Linked DNA regions of Homo sapiens. The protein of the gene in region 6 purifies or fractionates together with the protein of the main gene of each other region. This does not show direct contact. Each region holds a gene or a part of one and is shown on either strand. Other genes may lie near its edges.

Region 1 (3,500 bases), on a different chromosome or scaffold from region 6:
TTTTCTCTTTTTTAAAAAAACTTTGTTCAGATGATTTTCTGGGTAGACAATCCTATCTTTAATAAGGACAGTTTTGTCTCTTCTTTTCCAACAGTTATACTTTTATTTTTACTGTCTTATTGCATTGGCTTCCAACACAACACTGAATGGTAGCGTAAGATCTGCACTGTTTGCCCCCACCCCATTTTTTTTGTACTGTAGTAAGCATTCTTCTAATGCAGGATTTTTTAACCCAGGGTTAGATCTACGAATGGAATCCCTGAATTCCTGGACATGATTTCTGTATATGAGCATCTATGCATTTGTGTAAGGTGAAATTGTGTAGACTCTTAAAAGGGTCCATGACCACAAAGATAAGAACCACTATTTTAGCTTTTTGTGTAAAATATGATGTGAGCTCTTGATTTGAAATGTATATCCTTTATAGAGTTAATTCTACTCCTAAATTTCTTACTAGGTTTTACCTTGTCTGGCTGTTGTTGTTTCTTAGTTAGAAATTGATGTTTCAGGGATCTATTGAAGCAATTGCATATTTTTTCCCATTTTATGTTAATGTGACTTACATTAATGTATTCCCTAGTGTTTGTGGCAACACTGTACTTTAACTTCATATTATAGTTCTGGTATAGTGGTCCTTAATATGCTATTGGATTTTAGTTTTTAATATTGGCTAGAATTTTTGTGATAATGTTATGGGATTTTTAGGGTGTCACTTTTCTGGCCTGAAACCTCTATGGCCAGTGGCGCCTTTGCCCAAGTTCTTGTCCTGTGTCCAGGAAGAATGAGGTACACAGACAAGTGGAGGGTGTGCAAGACAGAGAAGCTTTATTGAGTGTTAGGGGAGCTCACAGGAGACCCGCAGGGGGCAGCCCCTCTCTGTAGGCGGGTTGTCTTGTCGGCGGGTTGTCTTGTCAAATGTTCAGCTCTCAGCAGAGAGAAGGCCCTGGAGTGGGTGGCTCCTCTCTGCAGGCAGGTCATCCCATTGTCTCTGCAGCTCTTAGCAGAGAGGAGGCCCTCGAGAGCGTGTCTCCTCTCTGCAAACAGGGCATCTCAACTAGTGTTCAGCTCTCAGCAGAGAGAAAGCCCTGGAGAGGGTAGCTCCTCTCTGCAGCTGGTCGTCCTGACATCCCTTCAGGTCCTGAAGCTCTCAGCAGAGAGAGCACCTCCTCTCTGCAGCTGGTCGTGCCATGCTCTGCCCTGCTCTGACTGAGCCTGGGGCTTTTAAAGGCCTCAGAGAGGGGAAGTGCATGCTGATTGGTCCATGTGCAGCCATGTGCAGGCCCAGAAGAAAGCACCTTGAGTTCCCCTCTGGTCCGTAGGACGGGCAACCCGGCCCCCAGGCTTCAGGCCTGCCCCAGCCTGAAGGTGGGGCTTCACTGGGGACCCATCCTCTTCTGCCCAGGAGCCTATCTGCCTCCTGCAGCCATCCATGGTGCCCAGGCTGCTGGTACCAAGGGGCACCGGTGCCCAGCCACCCTCAGCACCCCCCCAAGCCTCCCCTCCTGCACTTCTCAGTGCCCACAGTTTGGAGGGGGCCAAGTCAGCAGGGGGCTGGCATGTCAGCACTGCCACAAGCATGCACCCACCCGGCCAGGCTGTGACAGTGCCCAGGCTCAGCCCCAACTCTGCTCTGAGATTGGAGTGGGTGGTGGGAGCGGGAAGAAGCTGGGCAGCGGGAACAGGCACCTCCAGGCCTACAAGGGAAAGAGGGGCCTTCCCTGGCTCCCCAAGAGTGCAGCGATGCCTGGGTCAGCAGCCCCAGTTGGGGCAGCTGAAACTGCACCAGGAGTGGGGGCTGGCTCCTGCCTCCTCCATGGAGCAGAAGGCCCAGATCCACAGCCACGACTTGGGCAGTTGTACCTGGGGAACTCTCACCTCGCCAAACTGCAAGGGGCAGGGATCCCACTTATCCCCGGCTCCTGCTGGCTCCGTGGAGCATGGTACCTGGCCATGTCCTCTCGCAGCCTGGGGCAGGGTCTCCAGACCTGGGCCAGCATCCCAGACAGGGGCAACACCGCCGTGAGCTCCCCTTCACCCAGCACACCACCCGGCCCGGCCCCATGGCAGCGGCCCCCAGGGAGGCAGTCTGCGGGGTTGGGGGCCTGTCTGCCTCTTCCATGGGCCCTCCCTGAGCAGCCAGTGTGATGGCAGCGGCCACACCAGATGGGCTGCCGCTGCCATCAGTAATATTTATAGTGATATTTATCTGTAGAGTTACTTTTAGGGACTTTTTTTTTTATCAAGCTTTGGTCACAGGTTATGCAACATTTAAAAATGAATTGGGAAAAAGTTTATCTTTTTATGTTCTAAAACAAGTTAAATAGCATGAAGTGCTTGTCCTTGAAGCTGTGAAACTCACCCACAAACTGCCTGAGCTGGCACCTTTGGGAACGGACTTCATTCCTCCCTGGGCCCCAGGCTGAGCAGGTCTGGCCTGGGTCACCTCATCCACTCCAGACGCCGCAAAATCACAGCAACCCTTCAGGGCCCTCTCCTGGCAGCGCCTCCCCTAGTCCCGGTGCTTGGACACTCCTCCCATCTGCACCGAGGAGAGGGCGGCACTCCAATCCCTGCATTACCCCTGGAACTGCACGCTCTGAACCAGGCCCGGTGCCCTTTCTGCCCAGCTGCCCGGCTGCTGCCAGCCCCACTCTGCGGAGCCAGCAGCACAGTGAGGCCCGTCCTGATGGCCTCCTGGAGCTGGAGCTTAGGCCAAGCCACAGGGCATCAGGGAGGATGGACGTTCAAGGGCTGGATCTGTTTGCCCCAGGGTCCTGGCACCCAACAGAAAGGAAAGCCAGGCTAATGACGGCTGTGTCCCTACACTTGACAGAGTCCTCCCTCCCTCCTTATCAAAGTCCTGTTTAAAGGGAATGGAGCCAGGCTGGAGAGAGAGTGCCTAGCTCTGCAGGGGAGCCGGTCTGGGGAAGCTGGGATCTCTCTCCCGCCCTCCCCTCTGCACTGTTTCCAGGGCAGCCCCAGGCAGTGGGGGGCGCCAGACAGTGGTGCTCCATTCCCTTCCATGCCGACGCGCCCAGCTACCCACTCCACCCAGCCCTGGAGGACATGGAAGGGCCTCAACCATCCAAATCCCACCCAAAACTGAGCCCAGAGGCACCCACTAAACATCTGTGACCCCACCCAGGGTGGGGCAAGAGGGCGCAAGCCCCCCAGTCCAGATGCTGGTGACGGTGTGTGCTGGGCGCAGACCCCGCTTCCTTGAAGACTGAGGGCAGTGCCCCCAATCCCGCTGACCTGCTGTGCGTGCGCCTGCCATGGGGGAGGGTGCCAGGGGAGAGGCACTGGGGGTGTCTGAGCGACCCCCACCCCTGTTGCAGGACTTCAGGGCCACAGGTGCTGCCAAGATGCTCCAGGGCACCTGCTCCGTGCTCCTGCTCTGGGGAATCCTGGGGGCCATCCAGGCCCAGCAGCAGGAGGTCATCTCGCCGGACACTACCGAGAGAAACAACAACTGCCCAGGTGCCAGGGGTCGGGGGCCG
Region 2 (3,500 bases), on a different chromosome or scaffold from region 6:
ATAGCTGGGACTACAGGCGCCTGCCACCATGCCCGGCTAACTTTTTTTATTTTTAGTAGAGACGGGGTTTCACCGTGTTAGCCAGGATGGTCTCGATCTCCTGACCTCATGATCTCCTCGGTGGCCTCCCAAAGTGCTGGGATTACAGGCGTGAGCCATCGCGCCCGGCCACTATTTTTTTTGAGATCGACTTTGCTTGTCACCCAGGTTGGAGTGCAATGGCATGATCTCGGCTCACTGCAACCTCTGCCTCCAGGTTCAAGTGGATCTCCTACCTCAGCCTCCGGAGTAGCCGGGATTACAGGTGCCCACCACCACGCCTGGCTAATTTTTGTATTTTTAGTGAAACGGGGTTTCACCATGTTGGCGAGGCTGATCTCGAACTCCTGACCTCAGGTGATCCACCCACCTTGGCCTCCCAAAGTGCTGGGATTATAGGCGTGAGCCACCTTGCTCGGCCAACAATTTTTTTTTTTTTTTGAGACTCAGTCTCGCTCTGTCGCCAGGCTGGAGTGCAGTGGCGCAATCTCGGCTCACTGCAACCTCTGCCTTCCGGGTTCAAGTGATTCTCCTGCTTCAGCCTCCCGAATAGGTGGGACTACAGGCGCCCGCCACCATGCCTGGCTAACTTTTTTATTTTAAGTAGAGACGGGGCTTCACTGTGTTGGCCAGGATGGTCTTGATCTCTTGACCTCGTGATCCACCCACCTCGGCCTCCCAAAGTGCTGGGATTACAGGCGTGAGCCACCATGCCTGGCCAACAATTTTTTTTTTTTTTTTTTTTTTGAGACAGAGTCTTGCTCTGTCACCCAGGCTGGAGTGCAGTGGCCCAATCTCGGCTCACTGTAAGCTCTGCCTTCCCAGGTTCACGCCATTCTCCTGCCTCAGCCTCCTGAGTAGCTGGGACTACAGGCACCTGCCACCATGCCCGGCTAATTTTTGTATTTTTAGTAGAGATGGGGTTTCACCATGTTAGCCAGGATGGTCTCGACCTCCTGACCTCGTGATCTGCCTGCTTCGGCCCCCCAAAGTGCTGGAATTACAGGCGTGAGCCACCGCACCTGGCCAACAATTTTTTTTTAAGAGACAGGATCTCGCTGGGTCTGGTGGCTCACGCCTGTAATCCCAACACTTTGGGAGGCCCAGGTGGGAGAATCGCTTGAATCTGGGAGGCAAAGGCTGCAGTGAACCGAGATCACACCACTGCACTCCAGCCTGGGCAACAGGGCCAGACCATATCAAATAAATAAATCAATAAACAAACAAACAAACAAACAGCTGAGCATGGTAGCGCATGCCTGTGGTCCCAGCTACTTGGAGGGGTGCTGAGGTAGGAGGATCACTTGAACCTATAAGGTCAAGGCTGCAGTGAACTGTGACTGTGCCACTGTACTCCAACCTGAGTGACAGAGTGGGACCTTGTCTTAAAAAATAAAAAAGAGAGAGAGAGAGAGACAGGGTCTCACTCTGTTGCTCAGCTGGAGTGCAGTGGCACTATCCTGGCTGACTACAGCCTTAAACTCCTGGGCTCAAGTGATTTTCCTGCTTCAACCTCCCAAAGTGCTAGGATTACAGGCTTGAGCCACCACGCCTGGCTAAAAACAATCCTTAACTTGACTGTAAAGGTTTAACAACATCGTAGGGTCTTGGCTTAAAGCAGATTTTCTGGACTCTGTTTCTTACCAAGTTTCTCTTCTCCTTCCTCCTCCTCATCTCCCTTGTCCTTTTCCTCTTCCTTCTCTTCTTCCTCTTCCTTCACATCCGGTTGAGGTGCATCAGTTTTCTTATACTCCATACCACTGGTCTGTTTCTGAAATGTTCCCCAAAGTACAATTTTGTTTACATGTTCATGTATTATGTTATATAATTCCTGAATGCCTACAGGCAAAGTTCTGTTCCAGGCTGTATACAGGGATAGATATACAGAAACGAATAGGATGTAATTCCTACCCTGAAGAGCGTGTATGTACGTGTGTGTATGCACATGTGCTTGTGTGTTTCAAGGTAGAACAATAAAAACAAAAGGGCCAGGCAGGAAAATAAAGGTCAAAAAAGTCAAGGTGACTGAGGCACCGATACACAGAATAGTGGCAGAGGCTGAGGCTGGAAAAGGAACTTGGGATCCAGTTACAAAGTGCTATGAATGCCAGATGAAGCATAATCCTCATTTAGCAGAAGTAGAGTCCAAAATAAGACTTTCTTTTTTTATGATAGCATGCAAAAAAAAAAAGGCTAAACAAGAAAAACTAACAATAAGGCTGTGGTACCCCAACATACTGTTTTGAGAGTGGGGAAGGTGAAGGCAGAATGGATAATGAGGAATCAAAGACTGAATTACAAAGAATAGAAATAGCTATGCCAGCAGGCAAAGCTGATTATTGCCCAAGTGGCTAGTTTGGTATCTAAGTTTATTGTTTTTTTTTAGAAAGTTGCTGCCGAACACTATGGAGAGTAACAGATTAGGATAAATAATAATAGCAACCAAGGGGCTATAAATCCTGCTCCCATCTGGGCACAATAAACGGCCACTGAGGAACAGTAAGTAAGGTTTCTGAAGTCAACACCAAACATGGCTTGGTCATTACTGAGCCACTACAAAGAAAACCTCAGGCAACATATCTTAGTTATTTTTAATAATCACTAGAGTGATGTCTCTAAAATTGATTCTAAAAAAAAAAACTTCCTACCTTTCCAGAACAGCAGAAGAGGATAACCAGGAACACAGGAAGGGCTACAGTTAGAATATAGACTACCCACAGCCACGGGCGCTCTTCAGCTGCCTCGATCATCTGCCCCACAACGCCTGGCTGAAAAACAAGACAGGGCTGATTGAAAGTTCCAGCTTTTGACACCAAACATAGGCCGTGCTGTTTTTCTGCAGTTCAGTTATGGCATGGCACTACGCAGGACCTTCTTTTTCAGAGAAAATGCTCATAAAATGTAAAAAAGAAATTAGAGAAAGCCTCCATCCTCTTGCTCTCCTTATAATCAAGATGATTTCACTCTCATAGGTGCAAAAGCTGGCTTCTACATCACCTGCAAAAGGCTCCCTTAACCTCAGGATCCAGTGAATTTCTTATCTCAGTATCCCTGGCTCTCCAATTCTTAAATCGGCCACATGACCAGTTGTTTGAAAATTCTGTATGTAGTGTAAACCGAGATTCAACATATAAGAGTGTATTAAAATATAGCCTAAATGACAAATTTCGAAATATATACCCAGACAAATAATAAAAAAAAAACCCTGAACACAAACAGACTCTAAAGCCACTACATTAGACTAATGAAATCATGCCCCAAAACCCAATATTGTGTCTTTTGCAGGCATATGGTTATACTTTTTATGCCAATATTGCCAAATGAAGAAAAAAAACCTTAACACAGACTTTCACAAAATAACAGCTCCTTACAATAACAGACACAAATGCACAAGCAGCAAACACGAACCTCAGCAGCCCCATCAGCAGCTTTCTTCAGGCCCCATCCATCATTGGCCCAAT
Region 3 (3,500 bases), on a different chromosome or scaffold from region 6:
TCCTGGCCTCGAGATCTGCCGGCCTCGGCCTTCCAAAGTGCTGGGATTACAGGCGTGAGCCACTGTGCCTGGCCCTTTTTAAGAGGGTCTCACTCTGTTGCCCACGCTGGAGTATAGTGGTGTGATCATAGCTCATTGCAACCTCCAACTCCTGGGCTCAAGTGATCCTCCCACCTCAGCCTCCCAAGTAGCTAGGACCATGGGTGTGCACCACCATGCCTGGCTAATTTAATTTTTTTTTTTTTTTTTAAAGAGACAGGGTCTTGCTTGCAACATTGCCCAGGCTGATCTTAAATTCCTGGCCTCAAGTGATGCCCTACCTTGGCCTTCTAGAGCACTGGGATTACAAGTGTGAGCCACCATGCCCAGCTATACCAGTGGGCTTTTAAATGGACATTTCTTTACCTCTGGGGATAGTCTCATTTTTGTGAGGCTCCCAAGGGGAAAGCAGCCATCTGACCAAACTAGAAAACTAGCAGGCTTCAGCCCAGTGGAATAACATAAAGTAGGACAATCGATACAGACAACATTGATTGGCCATGCTTTGAGTGCTGTGGATAGTGTGTATTGGAAGCTTAAGGGGCCAGCTCATAAGTAAGTTGTAAGTAAGTATTTAAGGATGCTTTTTTTTTTTTTTTTTTTTTTTTGAGACAGAGTCTCACTGTCACCCAGGTGTGAGTGTGATCTTGGCTCACTGCAACCTCTGCCTCCCAGGTTCAAGTGATTCTTGTGCCTCAGCCTCCTAAGCAGCTGGGATTACAGGTGCTTGCCACCATGGCCGGCTAATTTTTGTATTTGCAGTAGAGATGGGGTTTTACCATGTTGGCCAGGCTGGTCTTGAACTCCTGACATCAGGTAATCTGCTCACCCCGGTCTCCCAAAGTGCTGGGATTACAGGTGTGAGCCACTGTCTCTGGCCTAAGGTTGCTTCTTGTTTTTCCCCACACCCCATCTCATACTCATGGGGAGTTGGGTTTGACTGTATTCTTGAAGTTAAGTCTCCATCCTTGGACCCAGCTGCTAAAGTCTAAAATGATTGTGTTTTGGGCTGGAAGATATTATAGAGATCTTTATTTCCTTGCAAACATCAGGGCTGGCTGTTTGTGGTACTGTGGATGAGTGAAGAGTCAGGAGATACACTTCTAGTTCTGTTACTGCCCAATGCCTCCATTTTGCATTTGATAGGTTTTTATTTTTCTGACGACAAAAACTGAGCCCCAGAGAAGTGAAGTGGGCCACGTAATGGTAGGATCTTTTTTAGGCCACCCACATAATAGTGGGACTCTAGTGTTAGAGCTGGGACACAGGCTAGGGGTCTTACAAAGGGTGGCCATAGAAGTTGTTAGAATTGTTTAAAGCATTGTAAAGATGCAGGATGCTTTTGCAGTTAAAAGTCTCCTGGGAAGGAGGAGGCCCTGTCTCCACTTACTGCCTTGTACATGATCTTATACCCTCATGGTTGAAGATTTTTGCTGTCGTGCTGTTTTTCCTCCTACTCATGTCGAAATGTGTTTCTCTTGCTCTTACCTCAGAGGAAATGAATTTGAAGCCTTCCTCCGTGTTAGAAACAAATAGTGCTCAGGCCAGACTTGTGTGTTTCTGTAAAGAATGAGGCCAGATGTAACAGTGGACCTTATCTGGTGATCCAAGCAAACCTTCAAGACATCTCTAAGAGAAAGAGAGAAGGAATGAGTGTATTTCAGAGTGGTTTAAACACACTTTGGAGTCAGACTCACTTGTATTTACGTTCTGATATCTACTTACTAGTTGTCAGATTGTAAGTTACTTATTTTCTCTAAGCCTTAGTTTTATGATCTGTTGAATGGGAATAGTAATATGTATTTTTATAGCTATCTTAAGAATTCAGAGAATAGATATGGTGCTTCCTCTGGCACAATGTAAAACAGCAGTCCCCAACCTTTTTGGCACTAGGGACTAGTTTCATGGAAGACTATTTTTCCATGGACTGGGGGATGTGGGGGATGGTTTGGGGATGATTCAAGCACATTATATTTATTGTGTACTTTATTTCTGTTATTATTATTTTTGAGACAGAGTCTCACTCCATCACCCAGGCTGGAGTTCAGTGGCACAGTCTTGGCTCACTGCAACCTCTGCTTCCCAGGTTCAAGCAATTCTCCTGCCTCAGCTTCCTGAGTAGCTGAGATTACAGATGTGTACCACCACACCCGCTAATTTTTGTATTTTTAGTAGAGATGAGGTTTCACCATGTTGACCAGGCTGGTCTTGAACTCCTGACCTCAGGTGATCCACCCGCCTGGACCTCCCAAAATGCTGGGATTATGGGCATCATGCCCAACCTATTTCTATTATTATTACATTATAGTATGTAATGAAATATACAACTCACCATAATGTAGACTTAGTGGGAGCCCTGAGCTTGTTTTCCTGCAACTAGACGGTCCCATCTGGGGGTGATGGGAGACAGTGACAGATCATCAGGCATTAGATTCTCATAAGGAGTGTTCAACCTAGATCCCTTGCATGCACAGTTCACAATAGAGTTTGTGCTCCTATGAGAATCTAATGCTGCCACTGATCTGACAGGAGGCGGTGCTCAGGCGTTAATGCAAGCGTTGGGGAGCAGCTGTAAATACAGATGAAGCTTTGCTCACTCACTTGCTGCTCACCTCCTTGGATGGGTTTCTGATAGGCTACAGACCAGTATCGGGGGTTTGGGACCCCTGATGTAAATGCTCTGTGTTGTCATCATTATTGACAACAATAGTTTCCAGTTTCTGAGCCACGTCGTAGTTTCAGGATAGGTTATGCTGACCAAGCAAGTTTTATCTTAACCATCACCTCATTGTTGTCTTAGTTGGTTTGTATTACATATTATTTATACCAATAGTTATAGGTATTTCATGCTGAATAACTAAAAGTTGTGAGTAGCAAGGAACTTTGCTGCTTCTCTGCCATCTCCTTCCTTACTCAGCTTAGTGCTTATCTTTCTCAGGTTCTCTCTTGTCAGGTGCTCAAGCCAGCAGGCCTTGTTTCGGGGGCAGTGTCTGATGAGGGGATTTTATTGGGGTAGGGCTGGCTAGTCCAGAGCCTGCCTGGTCCCTCAGATAGTATGTTCTCCTTATCTCTTGCTTTCTGCTCTTCAGCCAGACATGAAGCAATTAGCTCATCAAGGGAATGTTGACTTTTGTCACTGCTTTCCTCTGATTTGTATGCTCATTTCTGGTCCTTGTGCAAAGTCACGGAGGCACAGTCACATACACTGACCCAGATTTTGTGCTCAAGTTGACTGTCTCTCTCTTTGAGATGTACAACTGGTTCCATGTAGCAAGGGAGTGAGGAAAAAGCCCCTGGAGCCAATCCCATTATTTTGATCTCAAGTTGAGTTTTTAAAAAAATCCAAGCACTATGACTATAGACCATGCCTCACTTCTCTGTATGAAACAAATAAGGTAAAAAAAACTCACTATTTGGAGGGAAGGCCAATCTGAATTGGTAAACAATAGGAATTAGTACAT
Region 4 (3,500 bases), on a different chromosome or scaffold from region 6:
ATTTAAATTTGCAATTTTGGTATTAGCATAGGTCAACCTAAACTATGGCGTGTATTTCACAATTTGATTTCATGTACTATCATATTCTATATTCTTCTAATATTCAATTTCTTCTCTATGGAACATTAGGTAACTTAGTGGATGCTATGGCTATGGATGCTGACATCATATGAGCTGTTCCAACTACTCTTCTATATTTAATAACATTTCCTTACCTCCCTGTTTACCAATTCACTTGAGCCTGTGAAAGGAAAAACTGAAGTGGAGGAGAATGTCTTTCTCCTTTTTGTGTTATACTTGTTTCAGCATCAACAACTGGGAACCAGTTTGTTACAACATTTTATAATGATATCTCTATATTAATTTACTTACAACACTAACATAAGTAAGTATAATTTTGGAAGGAGCCAGGAGATAAATTGGAGAAACGAACACTTTTTCCATCATCAGAATCACCCCTTACCTCTCTCTTACAGTCATGCGTGCCTTACACTTTACTTAGTTAATTCCCAAGAGAATCTTCAGTTCTTCCTGAATATGATTTCCAAAAAAACAGCCTTCTACTCACTTACTCTGACCCTTAGTATGGCTCACAGGTTAGGCTCAAGCTAAGTCTCTGAGGTGGGACAATCAGAAGGCTGATCTAGAGGCTTTCTCAACCCTGTACCACACATGCCTGAAGAAAGGCATCACATTTATACAATCAGGCTGTGTTGCCTTTTCTATTTAGGGGGGAACTTGTGAAAAACTTTGAAATGCTCCCAAAAGATGTCTGTCTAACTCAACTTTCCAGCTTATCTCACCCTTTCCTATTTTACAATCCTGGAAATTACAGAAAACTGAGAGTGATGCAAAGGACTCTTGCCCATTGAAATGGAAATAGTTCTGGTGGAATGCAATTGATTATTGCCCTATGCAGAGTGACCAATTTAACCAGATTTGCATCTATTTGTAAATTCTTTGCAATATTCTTGATGTTTATGTTTGTCCTTTGGATTTATTTTTGAACCAGTTGTAATATCTTACAGGTTCCTTTTTTAATGAGTTAGTTAAAATTTATGTCCCATCTTCAAAAAAAATTATCTTGTTATATATACACATGTATGTTTATACATGCATATCACATCTGTAGAAAAATTCACAAGAAGTTGGTAGCTGTAATTACCCCTGCAGAAGGAAAGGCAGGAAAGCTTGCTTTTCACTACATGCCCTTTTGGATGTTTTGAATTTTGTGTTGTATGCCTATGTTACCTAAACAAATAGAAAATTTTTAAAAATTTCTTTTTGAACTCTTGAAAATCAAGACTTAGCGATCCCTTGACTACTAATTTCACGTCTGAAATAACTGACTTTCTATAAAGGTTTTTGCCTCTAAATAAACTACTAATAGAGAGCAGCCTACACATCAACATCATACTTAGAGACTTACTTTTGTATTTTTTAAGGCAAACTAGTAAACTTTACTTTTCAAGGTAGCTCTAACCCTGTAGAAAGATTTTGGTCGGGTGGTGCTAATTCTATGACTACTCTGTTGGGGAATCACACAGTTTTAGTGTAGAGGGAAGTGGCAGACCCATCAGCCTATTTTGCATTTATTCTGTATGCACCTTGCCTCTTCACCAGCTGTGTCCTCTATAATCCCCTTGTCTAATTATAACGAGCAGCCCTCCCATTAAGCCAGTGATTCTCAGGCTTAGATGTATATTAAATCACCAGGAGTGCTTTTAAAAATCGAAATGCTTAGACCAATTGAATCACAATGTCTGAGGGTAAGACACAGACATTGGCATTTTTTAAAGTGATCAAGGTGATGCCAATGTTGAGAAACAGTGTCTTGTGCGAAGAATGGTACTGGCTTAGGAAAAAACTTAACAAATAATACCTCAGAAGCAAAAGCACTCAGGATATCTGACTGGAAGATCTGCATAGGTGATGAAGACGGCCCAAACAGAAAAGAGAGGCACCCTTTACTGTGAATGAATATCCTTGTACAAAGAATCTGTTTTGACCCATGCTGCTTCTGGAATGGGGCAAACTAGATATGGGGGAGTGGTTTAAAAGCCCGAGCTGACTTAGTTACAGATATTAGCTTTTTTTATACTTCTGATTTCAGATAAACTCTCAGTGAGTAAAAAATACCAAATCGGGACTCTGCATATCCCCGCCTTGTTCCTCTGCCATTTGGGGCACTGAGCCAGCCTGCTGACAGTGACATCCATCTAATACCACTGCCACCATATGGTTGTGCTACCGACAAAAGGTTATATTTATCACACACGGTACAACTGGGAAAACCACATACTGTACAAACATGACCTATTAAGCATCTGTTTTAATCAAAGATTCTAGAACTTCTTTGCTCTAACCCTTAAAAATATGCTTTATTAAGAGGTCTTTGATAGAGAAGTAGATTTGTAAAGGGAGAAGTAAAAATGCATCCTTTCATTAATTTTGAAATAGTAAGGCGAGGAGATAGCCTATTTCTTGGTATTTCTTCTCTACCCTGAAAGATATCTCCTAATGGGAAGTCCTGATTAATGGCCCGCTTGTATTCCAAACTGTTTTATTGTTGCCTCAGCCTTTTTCAAAACCTGAAAATTGGTCTCATGAGCTCTACTGTGGTGGTTTGCCTTCATGTACTCATTGTATATCCCCTCCCTTTTGTATAGGAAGACAGAGATGTCAATGACCCCATGCCCAACCGAGGCGGCAATGGACTAGCTCCTGGGGAGGACAGATTCAAACCTGTGGTACCATGGCCTCATGTTGAAGGAGTAGAAGTGGACTTAGAGTCTATTAGAAGAATAAACAAGGCCAAAAATGAACAAGAGCACCATGCTGGAGGAGATTCCCAGAAAGATATCATGCAGAGGCAGTATCTCACATTTAAGCCTCAGACATTCACCTACCATGATCCTGTGCTTCGCCCAGGGATCCTCGGTAACTTTGAACCCAAAGAACCTGAGCCTCCTGGAGTGGTTGGTGGCCCTGGAGAGAAAGCCAAGCCATTGGTTTTGGGACCAGAATTCAAACAAGCAATTCAAGCCAGCATTAAAGAGTTTGGATTTAACATGGTGGCAAGTGACATGATCTCACTGGACCGCAGCGTCAATGACTTACGCCAAGAAGAGTAAGCACACATCCTCTTCTTTCTAAAAATGGGGCAACTGTTGTTTTCATAGGTTTTTAGGTTTAGTTAGATTGTTAGAATGAAGAAATAATTATTGATGCCTTTATTTCAAGGAAATAAGAGGATCTTTGAACAGCAAAATGGTCAGAAGGAGGCAGTCCCTCCATTTATGCCATTGTATTGAAGGTGGGCTGTATAAAATTCTGGGGCCCTCTACGTCAGTGCTATTCAAAATATGGTCCCCAGACTGGCACTGGTCAATGAATTTTTTGTTACCAGTCCACAGTGAGAAAATGAGCTTGCACCAGGATGTAAGTCAACTACACTATTAAATATTTTGTTTAGTTTAAGTGACAACTTTTTAATAGCA
Region 5 (3,308 bases), on a different chromosome or scaffold from region 6:
ACCTGTAGTCCCAGCTACTCGGGAGGCTGAGACAGGAGATTTGCTTGAACCCGGGAGGCGGAGGTTGCAGTGAGCCAAGATTGTGCCACTGCACTCCAGCCTGGGTGACAGAGCAAGACTCCATCTCAAAAAAAAAAAAAGAAGCAGACCTACAGCAGCTACTATTGAATAAATACCTATCCTGGATTTTAAAAAAGAAAAAAATATATATAATTTTATTTTAAATTGGCTTTTATCTTTAATTCTTTTTTTTAAAGTTATCAAATCTTCATTTTCTAAGAGTAGCCCTTTATAGTGTACAAAATGATATTAAGTGCATTATTATCTTCGCTTTTCATGGCTCTGAGTCATAAAACAAGCTGGTGGATCTCACTGTACCTAATTTATAGACGAGGAAATTGTCATTCAAAAAGATTGACTGTTATGCCCAGGGTCAGCACTAACCTGCAGAACCAGTATTCAGTCCCCAAGTTCAGTGTCTTCTACTGCCCTCTACTAATGAAAAGTGAAAATTTCCCTGGGGTCTAATTCTCTCTTCAGTTTGCTGTGCCGTTGTTTATCTTTGAGTCTTCATTCTCTGAAGATGGCTTTCTGCCTGTTTCTGGTACATTAGAATTCTCACTATGATATAGAAATGGCTTCAGTTTCATAGCATAATCTTGCAGTTAGCTCTGAATTGCCTCAAAAACCCTGAACAACGCGAGGTTCCAGATGTGTTTTACTTCTTTCATTCATATTTACCCCCATTTGTTGTTTAAAAAGAATTATGAACAATTATTACATCATATGTAGACCACTTTCACTGATTATATGTTGACATTTTCCTCAGTAAAACATAAAGTTCTTAACAAGACTATACTGTAACACCTTTCTCCAACAAAATCAGCTGTATGTTGAAAACTATTAAGTCATTGCTAATGTTTTAAGCCATAATACAGACAGCCTTATACTCTATGATGGGAGAAGGGAAAGTAGTTTGTCCGATGGTGCTACTCTGTATAAACATTACTGATGCTATCTATAGTAGGGCAAGAAAAGTAAAAAGAGTTTTGATTATTCAGGCAGCATTTTTAAAAACCTGTGAATTTGTATCAGTTCTCATCTAAACATTTGGACACAAGTATAAAATGAAAACATATGCACAAGTTATGGTTTTTAAGTTATCTGCTCTTTTTTTTGGTTTCACTGTACCTTTGTACTCTTCTATTAGTGGGAATAATCAGACATGAACTGTGACTTCACATGTACAGTCATACCTCACTTAATGATGGAGATGCACTCTGAGAAATGTCTAATTAGGTTATTTCATCGTTGTGGGAACATCATAGAGTGTACTTACACAAACCTAGATAGTGTAGCCTGCTACACATGTAGGACATGTATATAGCCTATTGCTCCTAGGCTACAGCATGTTGCTGTTCTGAATCATGTAGGCAATTGTAACACAATGGCAAGTGTCTGTTTATTCAAACATCTAAACACAGAAAAGATACTACAACAATAACAATATGGTATAAAAGATTTTGTAAAAAATCTGGTCAGGTGCAGTGGTTCACGCCTGTAATCCTAGCACTTTGGGAGGCTGCCTCAGCAGGTGGATTGCTTGAGCCCAGAAGCTCAAGACCAGCCTGGGCAACATGGCGAAACCCCGTCTCTGCTAAAAGTACAAAAGCTGAGGTTGGAGGATCACCTGAGCCTGGCAAGGTCAAGGCTGCAGTGAGCCATGATCATACCACTGCACTCCAGCCTGGGTGACAGAGTGACTCCCCATCTAAAAAAAAAAATATATATATATATATATACTATATATATATATATACCATATATATGGTATATATATATATAGTATATATATATATGGTGTGTGTATATATATATATATGGTATACCTGTATAGGGCACTTACTAACGGAGCTTACAGAACTGGAAGTTGCTCTGGATGAGTCAGTGGTGAGTGAATGTAAAGGCCTAGGACATTACTGTACACTACTGTAGACTTTATAAACACCGTACACTTAGGTGACACTAAAATTTATAAAAAATGTTTTTCTTCTGGTTGGGCATGGTGCCTTATGCCTATAATCCCAGCATTATGGGAGGCCAAGGTGGGTGGATCACTCGAGGTCATGAGTTTGGGACCAGCCGGGCCAACATGGCTAAACCCCATCTCTACTAAAAATACGATAATTAGCCAGGTGTGGTGGCACATGCGTGTAGTCCCAGCTAATTGAGAGGCTGAGGCAGGAGAATTGCTTGAATCCAGGAGGTGGAGGTTGCAGTGAGCCAAGATCGAACCACTGCACTCTAGTCTGGGTGACAGAGGAGCAAGACTCTGTCTCAAAAAAAAAAATTCTATAATTTTTATAGAAATAATAAAAAACTAACCTTAGCTTACTGTAAATTTTCTAGTTTAGAAACTTATTTAAAAACAATTTTTGGACTCTTCTAGTAATAACGTAGCTTAAAACACACATTGCATAGCTGTACAAAAATATTTTCCTTATATCCTTATTATATAAGCTTTTATCTATTTAAATTTTGAATTTTTAAACTTTTTGGTCAAAAACCAAGACAAACACACTAGCCTAGGCCTATGCAGGGTCAGGATCAAGACATCCCTAGCAGGTGACAGGAATTTTTCAACTCCATTATAATCTGTGGGGCCACCATCATATATATATTGTACATTGACCGAAACATGGTTACATGACTATATAATTTGCGTCAATACTGCTCAGTGTGCCATATTTAAATTTACATGACTATATTGTGATATTCTTTTCAAAATAAAGTTTATTTGGGAGATAACTGATTTTGTGAAAAATTCTTCAACACCAATTTCCTCAGCAGTTGTACTGATTTTCTTACCTGTTATTCTAAATTTTATACCAAAAGTGAGGAAGATGGACAGGTAGTGGAAGGAGAGGGGTACAGTGACACTTTGTGCCTCTGATTATCTGCTCTGTATAGGTATATTTGTAAGAAAAGCTGTGGTTTGATTTAAATTCTTTTGAAATATGCATTAAGTCTTGACCTTTAGCATGATAGTTAATAGTTAATTCTTAGCACTGAAGAAAGTGTTTTTGGTTTTTCGAGGGGGAGGAGGGAGGGTGATGGTTATTATCACTGTTGTTTTGGTTTAGGGTTTTATCGTGTGTAGCAGGTGGACACACTGATTTATGCCTACTGCGTAAATCAGTGCTATAAAATACCCTCTGATTAAACGAAATGCGGGGTTGCCATGAAAATAACGAGAAACAATGATTTCTGATTCAGATGAAGAATCTAGCCATTTGGATCTTTCCTTA
Region 6 (4,096 bases):
AAAGTCTGTCCAAGTGGAGAAGCAGCAGATGCTGGGAAGGAATATGGGCTTCATGTTCAGTGGCCACGGAGCAGACCCTGACTCTGGAATCTGAGCTAACAATGTCTCCGGGCTTACATTTTCTCATGTGTAAAATGGGCCAAGCTTAGTATACCTAGAGTGTATAGGCAAGGGAAAGAGAGAGATGAGTGAGGGAAAGCGAGAATCCACTGAGACAGTAGCTCTCACTTTGCCTGACCTGCTAGCTTCCTCTCTTGTCCTGGTGTTGACCCATTTTGGACCTCAGGCCAGCTGGCTCCAGGGCTGTGCTTGTGCCTGCTCTGCCATCCCCATGTCTACATCGCTCAGGGCTCCCAGCCCACTGTGCTGCTCAGTGGTGTATATTTCACTTACCTTAAGGCCCAACGACTTGGAAACACATCCAGAAAGTCTGCTAGAGGATGCCTGAATGGTCAAGGTCATCTCAGTCAGGGCACCCAGGGCCACATTGCTCCCTGCAGTCCTTCCCCACATAGCTTGAGAAATGGCTGCCCCAGGAGGGTGCAAGGGTGCAAGGGTGCAGGGGTTCACTGATTACTGGGGAGAGAACAAGTTCAATTCCATGGTTAAAGAAGAAAAATGCAAATTGAATACCTGGCCCAAGGAGGTTCCTGGTCCCACCCCATGCCACCCTTGCCCTGGGATGTACTCTCCTTATGGTCTGACCTATGAGATCTCAGTGGACTCTATCCTCAGAAATCACAGAGTCCAGGATTGCAAACTGGAGGCCCTGCTGTGAGGCCCTGCCCACAGGTGGGTCTTGCCTGGCCTGTAGAGAGCTGGCTCTCTCACTTCCACACATCCCCACCATTCCCCACCGTGGCACCATGGAGTCTTCCTTACCTGATCTAGGAAGGCGGCGCTGGAGCTTGCTGCCCCCTGTCTGATCCAGCCCCTCATGTTGTAGGAGGGAGGTGGGCGACTGAAGCTCAGAGAGGGAGTAAATGAGCTCAACTTCACACAGCTAGTGAGGGGCTGGTTGGAGACCAGATTTTCCAAGTGGTTCCCCGGGCCCTCGGGGAGCAGCAAGGGCCAGGCGAACCTCCATGCACTGCACAAACATGAAGAAGTGAACCCTCTTGGGGTTCCCCAGGTGGGAAGTGGGGTGTCTTCTTGGGAGGGGGTGAACCAACTTCTGGTGAGTTTTCCTTGTTGAGGCAATGCTGCACCCGTAGCCTGTTTGTTAATAATTACCTGGTCGGGAGAGAGTGGGTGGTACTGAGAAGGCCTGGTTTGACCAGTCCTCCTGGGCTTGATAAGACAGAGCTGAGACAGCCACCCAGGGGGTCCACTCCAGGACAGACTGTGCCGTGAGTAACCCCCTGAGACAATGGAGACGAGAGACTCTAGAGGGAGGGTGACCAACTGTTCCACTTTGCCCAAGACTGATAATTCTTCTGGGATATATTTTCAGTGCTAAAACCAGGAAAGTCCCAGGCAAGCTGGGACACTTTGTCACTCTTGCTAGAGGTGAGAAATACTCAGGCTAGAAAGGCCCCGACTTAGGGTCCATGGGCACTGGTGGGTGACTATGCCCGGAGACCCAGAAAAGCCTCCCCCAGGGACACACAGCTGGTACAGGGCGGCACTGACTGAGGGCCAAGGTCTTCTGGCTGCCAATCCAGGTGATCTTGGGGAGCTCATGCCGGAGGGGAGGTGTGTCTGTGAGTGATGCGGTCCTATGTATGTTTCTAAATGATCCCTCCAACTGCTGAGTGGAGAACAGAGAGCAGAAAGACTAGGAAGCTTTCTGCAAGGGTCTAGGTCAGGGGTCAACAAACCACAGCTTGTAGGTCAAATCCGGCCCACCGCCCATGAGCTAAGAATGCAAGATGTAAAATATAAATATAAAATATAAGTGATAAGTATAAAAGATAAATATATAAAGCTATGAAAAATCAATAGAAGAACAACATTTTGTGACACAGGAAAATAATATGAAATTCACATTTCAGTGTCCGTAAGTGAAGTTTCACTGAAACACAGCCACGCCTCTTCATGCATGTCCGGTCTGTGGCTGTTTCCAGCTGCCACAGCAGAGTTGGGTAGTGGCAGCAGAGACTGTGTGGTCTGCAAAACCACAGATATTACTATCTGGCGCTTTGCAGAAAAAGTTTTCTGAGCCCTGGTTGAGGATCATAGCAAAAGAGGGGGCGAGAGGCTGAAGAACCTACAGGAGAGTCTAGGAGTTGGAGACCAGCTTGGGCAGCATGGTGAGACCCCAACTCTATAAAAAATTAGCTGGGTGTGGCTGTGCATGCCTGTAGTTCCAGCTACTTGGAAGGGTGCATGCCTGTAGTTCCAGCTACTTGGAAGGGTGAAGTGGGAGGATCACCTGAGCTCAGGAAGTCAAGGCTGCAGTGAGCCATGATTACACCACTGCACTCCAGCTTGGGTGACAGAGTGAGACCCTGTCTCAAACAAACAAACAAACAACCAAACAAACAAAAAAAACCCAACCCTGCAGGTCATGGAAGTGGATTAAATGGATTTTGGGTGGATAGAAGCCTAGAAGCTTTTTGGCCTGACAACCGGATACTGGTGGGACCATTTGATGGGGCAGGAGCAGATTTGGGGGAGAAACTGGAGTATCCTTTCTTGGACAGATGTTCATTATGAAACGGGTACCAATTCTATCCCCACAACTTTGGGCAGGTCACTTATTAAACATCCATGTCCTTGTCTGTACGGGGTAACAATACAAAGACCAGTTCTACTGACCTCTACAGGGGTGGGAGGGTCAAACTAAATGGCTGAAAGTGGTTTGTAAACCATATAAAGCACTCCACAGATGTTTGTGGAACAGACCCTAAAATAAACTCTGAGGATAGCCATCCTCCATGCAAAATCACTGCACTAATGAAATCAACTCATCTGAAAGACAAGTGTGGGAGAAGCAGCACCTGAGTCTGGGGATGTGGGTTCTGGCTGGGATATGTGCTAGGTAGGTGACTTGGGTGAGTCACTTTGGGAGTCTTCATTTCCTGCTCTGTTGGGTGAGAATGGAGTCTAGTGCTGTGCAGAGCTCACACAGGTGGGAAACACAATGACATGATGGACACAAGGAGTGTGCCTTGTAAGTCTAAAACATTGCCATCCAATAGTGTTGCTGTCACCATACATGTGGAAGGTGGTGGGTGTTACATTGCCTTTCACAAGCCCATCTGCAGGAGTTGAGGGTGTCACTCACGATCTCCGGGTGCTGGCCCACTGCCAGCCTTCTCAGTAGGGCCAGGTGTTCTTCTGGGGGAATTTCCTGGGCATTCTCTTCCCTCCCATAGGCCTGAGAGTGCAGAGGATGCATCTTATCGACTACCTGCTCCTCCTGCTGGTTGGACTACTGGCCCTTTCTCATGGCCAGCTGCACGTTGAGCATGATGGTGAGAGTTGCAGTAACAGCTCCCACCAGCAGATTCTGGAGACAGGTGAGGGCTCCCCCAGCCTCAAGATAGCCCCTGCCAATGCTGACTTTGCCTTCCGCTTCTACTACCTGATCGCTTCGGAGACCCCGGGGAAGAACATCTTTTTCTCCCCGCTGAGCATCTCGGCGGCCTACGCCATGCTTTCCCTGGGGGCCTGCTCACACAGCCGCAGCCAGATCCTTGAGGGCCTGGGCTTCAACCTCACCGAGCTGTCTGAGTCCGATGTCCATAGGGGCTTCCAGCACCTCCTGCACACTCTCAACCTCCCCGGCCATGGGCTGGAAACACGCGTGGGCAGTGCTCTGTTCCTGAGCCACAACCTGAAGTTCCTTGCAAAATTCCTGAATGACACCATGGCCGTCTATGAGGCTAAACTCTTCCACACCAACTTCTACGACACTGTGGGCACAATCCAGCTTATCAACGACCACGTCAAGAAGGAAACTCGAGGGAAGATTGTGGATTTGGTCAGTGAGCTCAAGAAGGACGTCTTGATGGTGCTGGTGAATTACATTTACTTCAAAGGTGAGAGTCAGATCATTGGTATATGCTAAATCCACACCACCGCCTCCAACCCACTAATTTGTTGACTGGTTAAATATATTTTTACAAAAATGTAAGTAAAAACGTTGTGT
Region 7 (3,500 bases), on a different chromosome or scaffold from region 6:
ATTGGGGCTGAGAGGCAGGTGATAAATGCACAGTCCTCAGAAGGGGCTGAGGCAAGCTGAGCCCACATCTTCCCCAGCTCTAGTGCCCGCCCAGGACCCCCACTCCATCAGCCATCAGTGGCCAGATCCCTGAGAGCACCTGCTCTGGGGTCAGCCACGTGCAAAAGGCCTGGGAGCCACAACAGGGAAGAAAGGGCCCTGCCCGCCCGCAGCTGGCGGTCACTGGGGAGAACAGACAAGAGAAAGCGTGGAGGATGGCATAGCTCAGAGTAGGGATTGTAGGCGGCAGACCACACTCCGTAGTAACCCCCAGTGTTGTGGGATATTAATGTGCATTACATAGGCAAGGAGTTATGTGATCAAATAGGTTTGAGCTAGGCACGGCTGCGCGTGCCTGTAGTCCCAGCTACTCAGAAAGCTGAGGCAGGAGGATCACGAGTCTGGGAGTTTGAGGCTACAGTGAGCTATGATTATGCCACTGCACTCCAGCCTGGGTGACAGAGTGAGACTCAAAAAGAAAAAAAAAAAGAAGGTTTAAGAAACAAGTTTCTTAAATTTAAGTTACAGTGGCTCACACTTGTAACCCCAGCACTTTGGGAGGCCAAGGCGGGTGGATCACTTGAGGTCAGGAGTTGGAGACAAGCCCGGCCAATATGGTGACACCCCATCTCTACTAGAAATACAAAATTAGCTGGGCATGGAGGTGGATGCCTATAATCCCAGTTACTAGGGGGGCTGAGGCAGGAGAATTGCTTGAACCTGGGAGGTAGAGGTTGCAGTGAGCCGCGATCGTGCCACTGCATTCCAGCCTGGGCAACAGAGCGAGACCCTGTCTCAAAAAAAAAAAAAAGAAAAGAAACAAGTTTCTTCTCTGCAGGACTTCTCAGAGGCTTTGATAAAGTCCTGTGCCTAACCTGCAAGAGGGGCATGGGGAATGAATTCAGTGCTTCCCAAGTGAACCTGACCACAGAACCTTTACAGAGCACCCGGCAGGATGAGAGTTCCACGGCGCAAACTTTGGGAACCCTCTGCCCCCATCCCCCTCTATGCCCTTGTGTGCCATGCTTACACCCTGCTACCACCTGGATATTCTGGTGTCTGGGGAGGCACTGTCACCCCTCTTGACCATTGGCATGGGGCGGGGTGGCTGGAAGGGCTTACCTGGGCCAGGGCAGCTGTCTCAGGCCTCACCCTCACCCACCTTGTCTCCTAGGCCTGCCTGGCACTTCTCCCGTGCTGCAACCGAGGTATGGGCCTGGCATCGCAGGGGCAGCAGGGGCTCTGACTGCTCTTTCTCTGAGCTGGGGTGGAGGGAAGCTGAACCTGGAACGGCAGAGGCTGGAGGCTCTGGGGTCCCACCTGAAGAGGTTGGGCTGTGCGGGTCTAGGGAGGGGTGCCGTGCTGAGGACCCCATCCTGCAGGTCACATGGTGGGCTTTAAGGAAGACCACTACATGCTGCGGGAGAACCTGATGGCCTCTGACCACTTGGACACGCCCATGCTGCGCAGCGGGAACCTCAAGGGCCGTGACGTGGTCCGCTGGAAGGTCACCAACAACATGCAGCGGCCTGGCTTTGCCACTCATGCCGCCAGCATCAACCCCACAGAGCTGGGTGAGGGCGGGGCTGGGCGCCACAGCTCTGGGCAGTGCCCTTCGGGCCCTCTGTTCCAGATCTGGGATCACAGCATGCCTCTTCTCTGGGTGTGGGGTGCAGGCACAGGGCTCAGCCACCTTTTGCCCTGTGCTGATGGTGCTATGAACCTCATGCCTCGGTGTGCGTGGCCTGCTGGCCAGGCATCCCCTGATCCTAGCATGGTTGCTGGAGGGATGCTCTGTGGTGCCTGTCATGCAGGGGGCTGACCACCTCCATCTCACCCCCTCCCACCGCCTTTCCTTAGTGCCCTACGGGCTGTCCTTGCGCCTGGCCCGCCTTTGCACCGAGAACCTGCTGAAGCCTGACACTCGGGAGTGCGCCCAGCTGCGCCAGGAGGTGGAGGAGAACGTAAGGACCCAGGAACTAGGCCTGGCCGGAGATGTGGGTATGAGGGCGGGTGAGGTGGGCAGGGCAGAGCGAATGCGGTCGTGGTACCGAGATTCATTAACTAGGGGAGAGGGGTCTCTCTGGACCTGTGCCTGGCAGGGGGCATCCTGGGATCTGTTTCCAGAGGGCAGAAGGCCAGAGCCTGGGCCCAGGATGCTGCCCCACGGGGCATGCCCCAGCCAACCCTGAGGATCTCTGGGTACAGAGGCTGCCTGGCTCCCTGGGTCCCCAGCCTGAGGGCTTGCCACGGGGTGGCCTAGGCCCAGCCTCACGCCCCTCCCTTGCCTGGCAGCTGAACGAGGTCTACAGGCAGATCTCCGGTGTACACAAGCTCCAGCAGACCAAGTTCCGGTGAGTCCCGGGGTGCCCGGGTTGGGTGGGGGAGCCGCTCCTACCGGGACTCCAGGAGCCGAAGCCCCCAGGCCGATCAGGCCTCCACTTCAGGGCTATCTAGCTCACAGCGCCCTCTTTGTCCCCACAGGCAGCAGCCCAATGCCGGGAAAAAGTGAGTAGAAGACTCGTGGGTGAGAGGGCCCCCACTTCCTGCCCGCCTGTCCCCAGCCCAGCCACTGCCTCGTCCGTCCCTACTCCATCTCCATCCCATAGGAAGGGAGGGTCAGATGTGTCCGTCAGGTTCGGACCTTCATTCGTTCCTTTGACCATTTCTTCAACAAATGCTAATGTGAAGTGCTTGCTATGAAGTGGCCCCTGGACTAGAGCAGGCAAAAGCAAATCAACCCAGTCCCTGCCCTCATATAGGTGACTGTCCAGCCCCCCACCCGGTACCAGCGATAGCAGGTACCCATCTCCATCCGCTCCAGTGTCCAAGACCCTGATCTTGGGTGCACCTCTGGGGACCAGGCAGGTTACCGAGAGGATGGGCCAGCAGGTCACACACCTTTTTTCCCAGGTCCTACATCGAGTCCTGGCCCTTCATGGGGAGAGAGAGGGAGTGAGGAGGGGGTCTTGATGCAGGGACAGAAGAGCTAGAATCTCAGCACATGACCATCAGTAAGAACCGTTGGCTGTGCGTGGTGGCTCACACCTGTAATCCCAGCACTTTGGGAGGCTGAGGCGGGTGGATCACCTCAGGTCAGGAGTTTAAGACTAGCCAGGCCAACATGGTGAAACCCCACCTCTACTAAAAATACAAAAATTAGCCAGGTGTGTTGGTGGGCACCTGTAATCCCAGCTACTTGGGAGGCTGAGGCAGGAGAATCCCTTGAACCTGGGAGGCAGAGGTTGCAGTGAGCCGAGATTGCGCCACTGCACTCCAGCCTGGGCGACTGAGTGAGAATCCGTCTTGAAAAAAAAAAAAAAGAATGGCTGACCAGCATTTCTTATCCTGCTACGGGCCAAGCATTGTCCTAAGGGCTTTCCGTGTGTGGTCATCTTATCCAACCCTCTCGTCAAGCCTGTGAGGTAGAGATCACTGCTGTTCCCATTTTGCAGATGAGG

Evidence for each region.
Region 1: the proteins of SERPINA4 (region 6) and COL6A2 purify together in Homo sapiens (co-immunoprecipitation; one large-scale study listed by IntAct). This does not show direct contact.
Region 2: the proteins of SERPINA4 (region 6) and CANX purify together in Homo sapiens (co-immunoprecipitation; 2 studies listed by BioGRID and IntAct, with this or other methods). This does not show direct contact.
Region 3: the proteins of SERPINA4 (region 6) and SIL1 purify together in Homo sapiens (co-immunoprecipitation; one large-scale study listed by IntAct). This does not show direct contact.
Region 4: the proteins of SERPINA4 (region 6) and GALNT7 purify together in Homo sapiens (co-immunoprecipitation; one large-scale study listed by IntAct). This does not show direct contact.
Region 5: the proteins of SERPINA4 (region 6) and FKBP14 purify together in Homo sapiens (affinity purification with mass spectrometry; 4 studies listed by BioGRID and IntAct, with this or other methods). This does not show direct contact.
Region 7: the proteins of SERPINA4 (region 6) and ITGB4 purify together in Homo sapiens (co-immunoprecipitation; one large-scale study listed by IntAct). This does not show direct contact.

The regions. Positions count from the first base shown.
Region 1 is NC_000021.9:46,108,112-46,111,611, forward strand, and holds part of COL6A2 (collagen alpha-2(VI) chain isoform 2C2 precursor), read left to right. Parts: intron 1-803; exon of another isoform or gene 804-1,985; intron 1,986-2,359; exon of another isoform or gene 2,360-3,338; 5' UTR 3,339-3,365; coding exon 3,366-3,480; exon of another isoform or gene 3,481-3,500. UniProt on the Homo sapiens protein: Collagen VI acts as a cell-binding protein.
Region 2 is NC_000005.10:179,722,967-179,726,466, reverse strand, and holds part of CANX (calnexin isoform d precursor), read right to left. Parts: coding exon 3,448-3,500; intron 2,808-3,447; coding exon 2,688-2,807; intron 1,811-2,687; coding exon 1,684-1,810; intron 1-1,683. UniProt on the Homo sapiens protein: Calcium-binding protein that interacts with newly synthesized monoglucosylated glycoproteins in the endoplasmic reticulum. It may act in assisting protein assembly and/or in the retention within the ER of unassembled protein subunits.
Region 3 is NC_000005.10:139,188,369-139,191,868, reverse strand, and holds part of SIL1 (nucleotide exchange factor SIL1 precursor), read left to right. Parts: intron 1-3,500.
Region 4 is NC_000004.12:173,245,311-173,248,810, forward strand, and holds part of GALNT7 (N-acetylgalactosaminyltransferase 7), read left to right. Parts: intron 1-2,669; coding exon 2,670-3,130; intron 3,131-3,500. UniProt on the Homo sapiens protein: Glycopeptide transferase involved in O-linked oligosaccharide biosynthesis, which catalyzes the transfer of an N-acetyl-D-galactosamine residue to an already glycosylated peptide.
Region 5 is NC_000007.14:30,010,087-30,013,394, reverse strand, and holds the end of FKBP14 (peptidyl-prolyl cis-trans isomerase FKBP14 precursor), read left to right. Parts: 3' UTR 1-2,808; downstream 2,809-3,308. UniProt on the Homo sapiens protein: PPIase which accelerates the folding of proteins during protein synthesis. Has a preference for substrates containing 4-hydroxylproline modifications, including type III collagen. May also target type VI and type X collagens.
Region 6 is NC_000014.9:94,560,146-94,564,241, forward strand, and holds the start of SERPINA4 (kallistatin isoform 2 precursor), read left to right. Parts: upstream 1-1,296; 5' UTR 1,297-1,349; exon of another isoform or gene 1,350-1,570; coding exon of another isoform or gene 1,571-1,664; intron 1,665-3,320; coding exon of another isoform or gene 3,321-3,337; coding exon 3,338-3,986; intron 3,987-4,096. UniProt on the Homo sapiens protein: Inhibits human amidolytic and kininogenase activities of tissue kallikrein.
Region 7 is NC_000017.11:75,738,459-75,741,958, forward strand, and holds part of ITGB4 (integrin beta-4 isoform 1 precursor), read left to right. Parts: intron 1-1,213; coding exon 1,214-1,247; intron 1,248-1,421; coding exon 1,422-1,613; intron 1,614-1,899; coding exon 1,900-2,003; intron 2,004-2,334; coding exon 2,335-2,393; intron 2,394-2,523; coding exon 2,524-2,547; intron 2,548-3,500. UniProt on the Homo sapiens protein: Integrin alpha-6/beta-4 is a receptor for laminin. Plays a critical structural role in the hemidesmosome of epithelial cells. Is required for the regulation of keratinocyte polarity and motility.